Homo sapiens: one gene and its partners. The protein of the gene in region 3 purifies or fractionates together with the protein of the main gene of each other region. This does not show direct contact. Each region holds a gene or a part of one and is shown on either strand. Other genes may lie near its edges.

Evidence for each region.
Region 1: the proteins of SLC13A4 (region 3) and POLR3B purify together in Homo sapiens (affinity purification with mass spectrometry; one large-scale study listed by BioGRID and IntAct). This does not show direct contact.
Region 2: the proteins of SLC13A4 (region 3) and MTNAP1 purify together in Homo sapiens (affinity purification with mass spectrometry; one large-scale study listed by BioGRID and IntAct). This does not show direct contact.

Annotation. Positions count from the first base shown.
Region 1 is NC_000012.12:106,455,125-106,458,777, forward strand, and holds part of POLR3B (DNA-directed RNA polymerase III subunit RPC2), read left to right. Parts: intron 1-2,013; coding exon 2,014-2,172; intron 2,173-3,653. UniProt on the Homo sapiens protein: Catalytic core component of RNA polymerase III (Pol III), a DNA-dependent RNA polymerase which synthesizes small non-coding RNAs using the four ribonucleoside triphosphates as substrates.
Region 2 is NC_000017.11:73,242,414-73,246,066, reverse strand, and holds part of MTNAP1 (mitochondrial nucleoid-associated protein 1), read right to left. Parts: exon of another isoform or gene 3,645-3,653; coding exon of another isoform or gene 3,635-3,644; intron 3,172-3,634; coding exon 3,064-3,171; intron 900-3,063; coding exon of another isoform or gene 877-899; exon of another isoform or gene 721-876; intron 1-720. Other genes in the region: CPSF4L (putative cleavage and polyadenylation specificity factor subunit 4-like protein), read left to right, coding at 3,635-3,644. UniProt on the Homo sapiens protein: Critical regulator of mitochondrial DNA (mtDNA) abundance. Binds dsDNA throughout the mitochondrial genome without sequence specificity and controls mtDNA copy number by promoting its replication.
Region 3 is NC_000007.14:135,690,061-135,693,713, reverse strand, and holds part of SLC13A4 (solute carrier family 13 member 4), read left to right. Parts: intron 1-1,289; coding exon 1,290-1,391; intron 1,392-1,955; exon of another isoform or gene 1,956-2,068; coding exon 2,069-2,166; intron 2,167-2,388; coding exon 2,389-2,513; intron 2,514-3,653. UniProt on the Homo sapiens protein: Sodium:sulfate symporter that mediates sulfate reabsorption in the high endothelial venules (HEV).

The DNA of each region.
Region 1 (3,653 bases), on a different chromosome or scaffold from region 3:
TTGTGTAACCTCATAATTTGGTAACTTCTTTGGCCAAGTGACGAAAGTTAAAAATACACGGCCACAAACTCTGGCGTGGAGTTTTTCTGCTTTTCTTTCTGTTTTTGACAATACTTTCACAAGTCACCACCTCGTGGTTTGTTAGACATCACCTGATCTGAAGTCTGACTTCTCTATTCATAATCTCGATTTCTCTTTTTCCTTCCTGGCGTACCCACTATGCCTTCCCCTTCCCTCTTTGTAGTTGCTAGGCAGCCATAATAGTACTCCTAGACATGTGTCTTTGGCATTAATGTTGGCCACACTTAATTTATGCCTCTTTTTTTCCTCCAAATGACAACAGCCATGCTTTAAAACTAGATGTTTTCCTTTCTGATTAACTGGTAACGTTTATGTGGAAATCTGAAGACTTTGTGATGTCTGTCAGAAACTCTGCAACCCAATTCAGTGATCTGAGTTTACTATCCCCTAGCTTTTAAGCTATCACCTGTAAATAAAATGTCTGTTTACACTTTGAAGAAAACACTTCTTGATTTCATGCAGTTAAGATTCACATTGCACTCCAGCATGTTGCAGTTAATGGCTACTGTATGAAATTTCAAGATCATGTAATGTTTCCAAACCAGCTGGCATTCTGAGCCGAGTTTATTATGGCCATACACAATTTCCTAGGAGCCATGATGACTACGGCCTTGCTTAAAGACACAAATGTCTTCATCTGACGTCCAATTTTAGAAATTCGTTACTTCATCTCACAGTCACCTTCATATTTAAAAAATTACATTACAGCCCTGAGATTTTATTTATAAATCCACTTTTACCTGATTGATTTCTAAAGTCACATTCTTAGATTTCTGTTTTTGGTGGAAAATTGTTAAGTGAAGGATTTTACTGCCATGCATTTATTTCATCAGTAATAAGCGGCATTTAATCCTGAGACATTTCTTATTTAAGTGAACTCTGGCATGGCTCAGTATATCCTGAGGAGATTAGTAAGAGAATCCAGTTTAAAATAACTGCTTGGCCAAAGGGAAAAAAGAAAGAAATGCAGCCACAGAATCAGGAAATTATAGTGTTGAAGGAATGACAGCTGTTTTGGGTAACTCTACAACTCATGGATTTTTTCTTTTAGGGATTCAGTGGTTGAGTTTTTTTGCCCCACCCAAAGGTTTTTCTTCTGTCCTTTTTGCTTATTTTTCTTCCTTTTCTTTTCTGATCCATTGCTAGACAGCTTATTTTTCTTGATGTTTAGATTGTTAGTTGATTTCACAGCCTTTCCCTCATCCACTAGATAAATGCAATCTAAAAATGTAATTAAACTCCAATCTTTAGGGCAGAGGAGAACTATTTTTCCCATTGAAATAATTTGATTATTTCTTTTTTCATTCTGTCTCTTCTCTGGAGAAAAATTATTGTTTTTACTTGTTGGCTTAGAACTTGCTCTAAATGCCAAATTTTAAAAAGGAAAACTTTCCAGGGAAGTTTAGCAGAAGTTATGCACCAAAAGGATGTGTATCCTGGCTCAGGAGTCAGTGGACTTGTGCTGTTCAACACAATTCTCAACTCTGCTGCCAACTTTTTGGATGACCTTGGCCACTTAATTTCTCTAGACCTCACTCCTAGTGCCTGTAAAACAGATAGGTTAAGCAGGTGATTTCTAAGGGCCTTTCCAATTCTAATATTCTATGGCTCTGTCCTCTGAAAGAATCACAGCGCCAGTCTTAGATTTCTCTCACCGTTCTCCAGTATGACAAGGTGTATTCCATGCAGAAAATGGTTGTAGAGATTCCAGTGTTTACACAGACAGTAGGTAGGGGACAAGTCCTGTGCTGCTTCTTCAGATTATCAGATTTTTATTTGGTTTGTACTGGTCCCAGATTATTATCAAATACAGAGAAGTTTTGGGATTTGGGGGAGGGTGAGGTGGAGTGGATTGTTGAGTAGCACAAATCCATATTTCCTTATAGCTTTGGGTTACTGGTGGTTCTAATGCCCATCTTGGTTTCATTTTAGGCTTTGGGCGTTGCCTTGTATATAAAAATGCTAAATGTACGTTGAAACGATACACCAATCAGACTTTTGATAAAGTGATGGGGCCCATGTTGGATGCTGCTACAAGGAAACCTATCTGGCGACATGAAATCTTAGATGCAGATGGTATTTGTTCTCCAGGTAAAAGCCTTTTAAAAGAAAAAATTTTAATACTTTTTGACATCATATGTTATTCAATAATATTTCTGAATATTTGGCAAAAAGGGCAGAAAAAAGTAACAACCTATAAAACCACCATCCAAACTCAACCAATGAGGTCATTTTTGATGAATTTCCTTCCAGTCTGTTTTTCTATACACTATGTTTTTACCTATCAGTAATCTATGCTAACTATAATTTTCTAGTTATAATTTTGAATAATAGAAAAGCCACTTTAAGGAAATATTTAGAGTAGTTTATGTCCCTGCATCTGCACTGGTATTTCTTCATTTACACATTTAGCTTACAGACTACTTTAGAATTTTATCCCCCTGCAAAGGTATGACTCCATTATAATTACAAACTTGTAATGCATTTTGTTGATGAAACAAATAGCCCTTGCCCTTATGGGTCTCACAGGCTAGTGCAGGAGACTGACATTGATCAGAGGATCATGCATAAATCCAGGTTAAGGAATCATATAGGTAACTATGAGGCCATTTTATAGCAAGAGAATTTGACCTTGTTGGGAAGATCAGCATGGCTTTCCCGAGGAAGTGAGCTGGAATCTGAAGGATAGGGAAGAGTTAACTAAAGAAGAGGATCAGGGAGCATGTTCTAAGTAATGAGAAAAGCTTGTGCAAGGGTCCCAGAGCTTGGTAGTTGAAAGGTCTGAAAGAAGACCAGCGTGGCTAACAAGAAGAGAGTGCAGGGAAGCATGGTGCACATGAGTTGGTGGGTGACGCAAGGGGTAGGGGCCAGAGTAAGCAAGTCCTTGCAACCATGTTAGTATTGTCTTTATTTTATTTTATTAATTTTATTTTTGAGACAGGGTCTCAGTCTGTCACTGAGGCTGGAGTGCAGTGGCACAATCTCAGCTCACTGCAACCTCTGCCTCCCAGACTCAAGTGATTCTCCCACTTCAACCTCCTGTATAGCTGGGACCCATAGGCACGTGCCACCATGCCTGGATAGTTTTTTGTATTTTTTGTAGAGATGAGGTCTTACCATCTTGTCCAGGCTTGTCTTGAACTCCTGGGCTCAAGTTCTCCACCCACCTCGGCTTCCCAAAGTGCTTGAGCCACCATGCCGAGCCCATGATACTATTTTCATTATGATCCTAAAAGCAATGATATATTCAGATATGTGTTTTGAATGATCATTCTGACTACAGTGTAGAAAAAGGATTAGAAGGGCACTAAAATAGAAGGTAGACCTGGTACCAGGAGCTGTGGTGAAGGTGGAGAGAACCCAGTTTGTGAGGAGGGAAATCCACATGACTTTGTCATGGTTGGCCTGTGGGCGGTGAATGCTTTATCAAGCTGTGGTTCCAAAGAGACACAGAGTACGCGACTTCTCCTCCCTCCCTCTGCCTTTGTTTCTTGGAGAATTTTTCTCACCCTAACACTGGTCAGTATGGCTTGGAAAATACGCGCTGTGACAGTACTACAGGTAGTTGGTCT
Region 2 (3,653 bases), on a different chromosome or scaffold from region 3:
TTTCTACCTGTAAGTATCCAAGTTACTCTCTGTGGGCCAAAGCAGAAGTCAAAAAATCAGACACTGAATAGTTTGATGAGATGAAGAGACACAGAAAACCCACCAGCCAAAAACAACCCTAACAAATGGAGAGGAATTTCTCAGTAATGCACAGAAACTCTTGAGAAAGGGATAGATAGGGGTGGGATTCTGAAAAGTTTCCAGGAAGAGATGATACATTAGCCACCGGTTCATTATTATACTCAATTAAGATGTATAAAATGTGATTTAACATTATAGTTAGTGTGCTATTTTAAAAATCAGCTTAAAAATATTTGTAAGCTTTTTTTCGGAGGCTTACCTGCAACTCGAATGCCCATCCTTAGCTCTTGTGTTTCTCACACCTTATCAAGATCTGGTCAAGGGCCCCAAAGAAACTAAGGGGAAGGGCCTGATGTGGGCTTATTTTCTGCCAATTCAGATACTTTCCTGTATCAACATATAGGTAGTAGTCTGGTATCTCATATAGCTGAATGGTAATGAGATACTAGCTTTTTACTGAGAAGTGACTTCTTAATTTTAGTGATGAACTTTGTCATCTTCACATCTCCTTGAATAACAACTTTATGGTTAAACAAAACTAGTTTTTCTCTAATTCTCAGTTGCTCCTGAGAGCAAGCCAAGAACATCCAGACAGAACCAGATCTGTCTATATTAATAATACGTTTACTTCCTGTATCATTATTTTAGATTCCAATAATTTTATTCTTTATTTTTTTCACTCCCCTCTCCCTGTCCCAAATATTATACATTTTTAAACTGTTAAGTATGTATTGCAGTCGTCTCCACTGTACGCCCTTTGCTGTTCCAGAGCTTTAAGTGATGTCCAGGTCAACACTACTTACGCCACCGCTGCAGCTCTTTGGATAAACAGAGACAAATGTAAGGATCCGAGAGGCCACTTCCAATGACTGTTACTATCTTTTGCCTCTACAGATCATTCTCTTTTTGTTTTATAAGTTTAGAAATAGAGTATTAAGCACAATGAGAAGTTTGTTTCACTTTCTTCAGTCTCTGTTCATTAATGTCAGGTATCAAACAATCCCTTTCAGACTGGTAAAACTTTAAGAAAAGCCCTTTTCTCTGTGGGAGAAATGACTCTTGGTTTTGGGCCTCTCCATTTATGCAGGACGATCAGAAAGGCACTTCTTTTCCTCACCCATGGCCAGGTGTCTGATACAAGAGATGGCGGCGAGGCCATCCCAGCCAGCATGCAGGAGTGCTGCCGCCTTGTTCCTGCTGTCGGACCTACCCGCTACTCACTAGGCACTGATTTCATCAAACGAATCCCAATTAGCATCAAATTGTGATTTTTTTTTTTCTTAAGAAGTCCAGTGTGTGAATTATGCTGGCCTTCAGAATTCATCGTTATCTTGTACTTTTACACCTGAAGTTTTCATCTGAAAGTGGGCTTTTTGTTTTAATTGTACAAAAATACTGGTGGTTTTTTTTTTTTTTTTTTTTTTTTGAGATGCAGTTTCACTTGTTGCCCAGGCTGGAGTAGTGGCGCGATCTCGGCTCACTGCAACCTCTGCCTCCTGGGTTCTAGCAATTCTCCTGCCTCAGCCTCCCGAGTAGCTGGGACTACAGGCGCCCGCCACCACGCCCAGCTAATCTTTGTATTTTTAGTAGAGACAGGGTTTCACCACGTTGGGCAGGCTGGTCTTGAACTCATGACCTCAGGTGATCTGCCAGCCTCGGCCTCCCAAAGTGCTGGGATTACAGGCGTGAGCCACCGCGCCCGGCCCCAAAATACTGGTTTTTGATTGTACAAAAACCAGCACAAAAATTTAATTATACAAAAATGCTGATATTTTTGATACCCACTCATCTTTTTAACTAGAAGGATTTTTTTAATAATACAATAAGAAATGAACAAACACATCTTGAATTAAGATAAATGAAATTAAGGTATTTTCCTTCTGGTTAAGACTTAGTGCAAGCTGAAACTTGGAGAATGGCACTTTGTTTTTTAAGTGTTCAAAGTAGATTAACTGAGATAGCAATAAGACTTAGACACATTGGTAAGTGACAGCTGTATTCTATTCCTCCTTCTCTCTTTTGTGGTGTAAAGGTGTTTGGTTTCAATGCCAAAAAGGTGCTCTTAGGCACCAAGGAAAAGCACCTTCCATTGGAGCAGGGTAACAGTTCTTAGGTACCTGACCTTTTAGCAGGGAAGGGAAAAAAGCTACAAAGGCTGAGTGCGGTGGCTCATGCCTGTAATTCCAGCACTTTGGGAGGCCGAGGCAGGAGAATCATGAGGTCAGGAGTTCGAGACTAGCCTGGCCAATATGGTGAAAACCCTGTCTCTACTAAAAATACAAAAACAAAGTTAGCCAGGCATGGTGACACACACCTGTAGTCCCAGCTACTCAGGAGGCTGAGGCAGAAGAATCACTTGAACCTAGGAGGCAGAGGTTACAGTGAGCTGAGATCATGCCACTGCACTCTAGCCTGGGTGGGAAAAAAAAAAAAAAAAGACAACATGAAATGGAGGACAAGGGCAATTATGTAAATTCTAGTCAAATCTTATACAGGCCATTACAACCAAGCCTCTAATAAAACCCCGGAGCCTGCCAGGTGCAGTGGCTTATGCCTGTAATCTTAGCACTTTGGGAGGCTGAGGTGGGCGGATCACCTGAGGTCGGCAGTTCGAGACCAGCCTGACCCACATGGAGAAACCCCGTCTCTACTAAAAATACAAAATTAGCCGGGCATGGTGGTGCATGCCTATAATCCCAGCTACTCGAGAGGCTGAGGCAGGAGAATCACTTGAACCCAGGAGGCAGAGGTTGCAGTGAGCTGAGATCGTGCCATTGCACTCCAGCCTGGGCAACAAGAGCAAAACTGTATCTCAAAAAAATAAAACCCAGAAACCCCAGGCAATAGCTCATTCACCAGGGCATGCCAGATACTGTAAAGCTGTAAAAAAAAAAAAAAAAAAAAAAAATTCAGAGAATCCCTTGGAGGTCCACATAACGGAATGGGACCTGTTATTTAGGCTAGAAATATAGAAAGACTTACTCAGACGTCTGAAACTCCAGCTACAACACAGGACGAAGTATCCTGTGAAGAGCATCGTGATGCCACCGAATCCACTCTTCCTTATGGTGGTGTTGCACCTGATCCAGCCTGTTCAAAAGGAAACACGGCTTGTTGTTACAGCAACTGAAACTAGGGCCAGTATCCGCGAGTCATTCAAGTTTTCCCAGTTAGCCTGAGTGATGGAACTGTAATTCAGAGATTTACACGCACATATTTTAAACACATAAAGGCTAACATCAAAGAACCTTAACTTGACTAGATTCAAATTAGTTACTCTTGTTTTGGGTGCTTGGTTAAAATCTTTAGTGGGAGGAGGCTAATACAACTGGTTAACTTGAGGTTTAGAGTTTTTCTGGCTTTGGGAGGAGGCACAATCAATGTGGGCAAGGGAAAGTTGGGGGTAGGTATTAAAAAATACAAGCTGTTGAATAAATGGTAGCTGTTATTAGCTTTGGTGCTTTCAATTATGTCCAACTCCAAAATGAACACAGACAAATGGAAAACTAGGAAGACAACACACATTTTAACATTTTTTTCCTCTCCTCTTTAGCCTTGCTTAACAGCCCGAA
Region 3 (3,653 bases):
AAAGACAGACTTGGAGAGAGAGCGTCCAAGAAATCACTAACCAACCCTCAGCCACTTCCATCAGCTTTTCCACAGGGACCCAGCTTCCTATTTAGTGCTATTTCTCCTTTTATGGCAATTGGCACATACAACTTTGCATAAAACAATCCAGGTAGACACTGTCTTATTTAAAGCTTTAAGTTATAAAAGGAATACATGTTCATTGTAGAACATTTCAAAAATACAAGACAGTATAAGAAAAAAAATCAAAATTGACTGGATTCTTAGCACCCCATGTTAACACTTCTTTCCATGCTTTTTTGTGCAAAACTCTTATGTATTTTTGGTAAAATTCAGTCCACACTGAAACTGTTGTATACCTTGCCTTTCTCAACTCAACTTTGTACTCTCAGTACAGTATGTTCCACATCCTTAACTCTGCTGTGGAAATGGGATTATCAATGGATGCATCTCATTTTAACACAGAGTTGTATCAAAATGTATTCAGTGTCATGAAATACCATTGGATATAGAGGATGCTTCCATTTTTTAATAGGTAATTAATGTCTCAGTATGCATTTCTGGTTAGATGATGGGAATGACCAACTATTTTTTTTTTTTTTTTTTTTTTTTTGGGATGGAGTCTCACCCTTTTGCCCAGTCTGGAGTGCAGTGGCACAATCTTGGCTCGCTGAAACCTCCACCTCCTGGGTTCAAGCGATTCTCCTGCCTCAGCCTCCCGAGTAACTGGGACTACAGGCACGTGACACCACGCCCAGCTAATTTTTTGCATTTTTAGTAGAGATGGGGTTTCACTGTGTTAGCCAGGATGGTCTCCATCTCCTGACCTCATGATCCGCCCACCTCGGCCTCCCAAAGTGCTGGGATTACGGGCGTGGGCCACCACACCCAGCCAGGGAATGACCAACTTTAAGGCTTCTAATGTGTATCATCAAATGGCCTCAAAAAGGTTGTAGCAATTCCTCCTCCCACCAGCACAGTGTTTGGGGCTGCCTATTTCACTGCACTCTCCTTGTAGGCTGTATTTGAAATTATTTTACAAATGTACAGTGCTGTGTTCTCTTGCCCTTTCTACTGAAGTTTCTCCAGGAACATGGTTAATGTCATGTTTTCTGGGGCCACTCAGTCTTCTCCTCATCTCACTGTCAGCCATTCATAGTGGTTAGGCAGTGAGTGTGTTTTATGTCTAGGGTATTGAAACTCTAAATACAGAAGCTTCCAGAAGCAAAGTGAAAAAGCTAGGAGAAATTTCTCAGTTCCTGAGTGGGTCTTTCTGTTTTATTTTATAGCTACCCAGAAATGGTGACTGGATTTTTCTTCATCCTGATGACCGTACTGTGGTTTACCCGGGAGCCTGGCTTTGTCCCTGGCTGGGATTCTTTCTTTGAAAAGTAAGTGATATCATTTCCTCCTTAAGAACAACCCCCTCACCCCAATTCTTCAGGCAAGACTTCATAGACTCTCAGGGGCAGATATGAAGCCAGGAAGATTTCATTCCCCAGGAAATCCACTCTTTTTAGGGAGGCTGCAGTGTGAAATCAGGAAGGAAAAACACTCTTTGGAGTCCCGGTCTGGGGTTGGAATCCAGTGCTGCATGTAGTCTCATTACATAAGCTCTTGGAAGCTTGGTTACCTCATAGGTGGTTATGAAAGTTAAAGGAGGAAACATCTATAAAGTACCAACTGTAAAGAAGAAATCAACTTCTCACTTGAGAAGGGAGGCACATGGAGGTGTGGCCTTCATAGGAAAGAGGTCTCATCCTCTTCTATTCTCCTTTATCTAACCAACTCCACTCCTGATCACTCCATCTAGGACTTGCCCCAATTAACGGGCTCACAAATTCACATTAAGACATCTACTCTAGCCAGGCCCTGCCTCCAGACATTCGCCATTGCCCATTAAATCCAAAGTGGATAGCGTGGCAGCAACTGGCAAGAACTAAGCTTAATGTTACCTCTAGATAAGTCCTAAAAAGAGGCACTGTGTTCGGACAGACTGCTCCGAGACATCATGTTACTCCTGAAAATTCCTGACCCTTCTCCTCAGCTATGCTTGTCTCTTTACTAGGAAAGGCTACCGTACTGATGCCACAGTCTCTGTCTTCCTTGGCTTCCTCCTCTTCCTCATTCCAGCGAAGAAGCCCTGCTTTGGGAAAAAGAATGATGGTGAGAGAAGGGAAGAAACTGGGGGTAGCTCTAGTTGAAGAATACCCAAATCAGACTAATACTCCCAAAGAGATTTACCAAGGTCCTTCAGATTCCCACCCCCCTCCCGGCCCCCGCCCCAAATAGCAGTATCCCAAATCATCCACTTCACCAATTAGGCTCCTGTCTCCACAAATCACGTCCATCAGGGTTTATCTGGCTTTACATCTCTCTCTAATCCAGGAGAGAACCAGGAGCACTCACTGGGGACCGAGCCCATCATCACGTGGAAGGACTTCCAGAAGACCATGCCCTGGGAGATTGTCATTCTGGTTGGGGGAGGCTATGCTCTGGCTTCTGGTAGCAAGGTAATTCTTGAATTCTGTTTTTTTGGGGTTTTTTTTTTTGAGACAGTCTTGCTCTGTCACCCAGGCTGGAGTGCAGTGGCACAATCTCAGCTCACTGCAACCTCCGCCTCCTGGGTTCAAGCGATTCTCTTGCCTCAGCCTCCCAAGTAGCTGGGATTACAGGCGTGCACCATGATGCCAGCTAGTTTTTGTATTTTTAGTAGAGACGCGGTTTCACCATGTTGGCCAGGCTAGTCTCAAACTCCTGACCTCAAGTGATCCACCTGCCTCGGCCTCCCAAAATGCTGGGATGACAGGCATGAGCCACTGCACCCGGCTTGAATTCTGTTCTTATGGGTCAAATACTTTTCCAGCATCTTTACCTAATGAGTCATTATGGGCATGGGAGGAAAGACTCAAAGCAGCTGAGAATGTTCACAGAGTCCCTGGGAAGGGAAACAATAGAGCAGGATGGATGTCCTCTGCTGCCCTAAGCTTCTCAGCGCTACTAGGAACAGAGGAACAGATGGGCTGTGCCACACAGTCATGACACATGGGCATTGATAGTTCATCTATGGGGCCCATGCTGCTACAAGCAAAAGGTTTATTGGAGTTTGCAGCCATCTCCTTCTGGGATTTGACAGTGGCAATAGGAGATGGTAACAGGAGATAGACATAGGTAATAGGTAATAGGAGTGGTAATAGGCGATCTCTGTAAGGGACCAGAGATGCTCCAAGTGACACATGGTGAACTGTCTGTCCACAATACATAGACTGAGCCCCTTTGGAAAATCTAGGCTAAAGCTGATGTAAATGCTTCTTGATTTTCTGACTGGGAGGATTTTGGATGAGATCTTTTAAGTGGGGTGGGGATGTGAGGGGATGATTGAATTTCCTAAAGTGTTAGCCCTCCATAAAATAGAAAACAATCTTAAGAATGAATTAGGTTAAGGTTCAGACTATTTCTCCCTCCATCTCATCTACATGCATTATCCCATGCTAAACTTGGTTCTCTTTTTTTTTTTTTTTTTTTTTTTTTTTGAGACAGAGTCTCACTCTGTCACCTAGGCTGGAGTGCAGTGGCGCCATCTCTGCTCACTGCAACCCCTGCCTCCCAGGTTCAAGCAATTCTCATGCCTCAGCCTCCCAAATAGCTGGGAT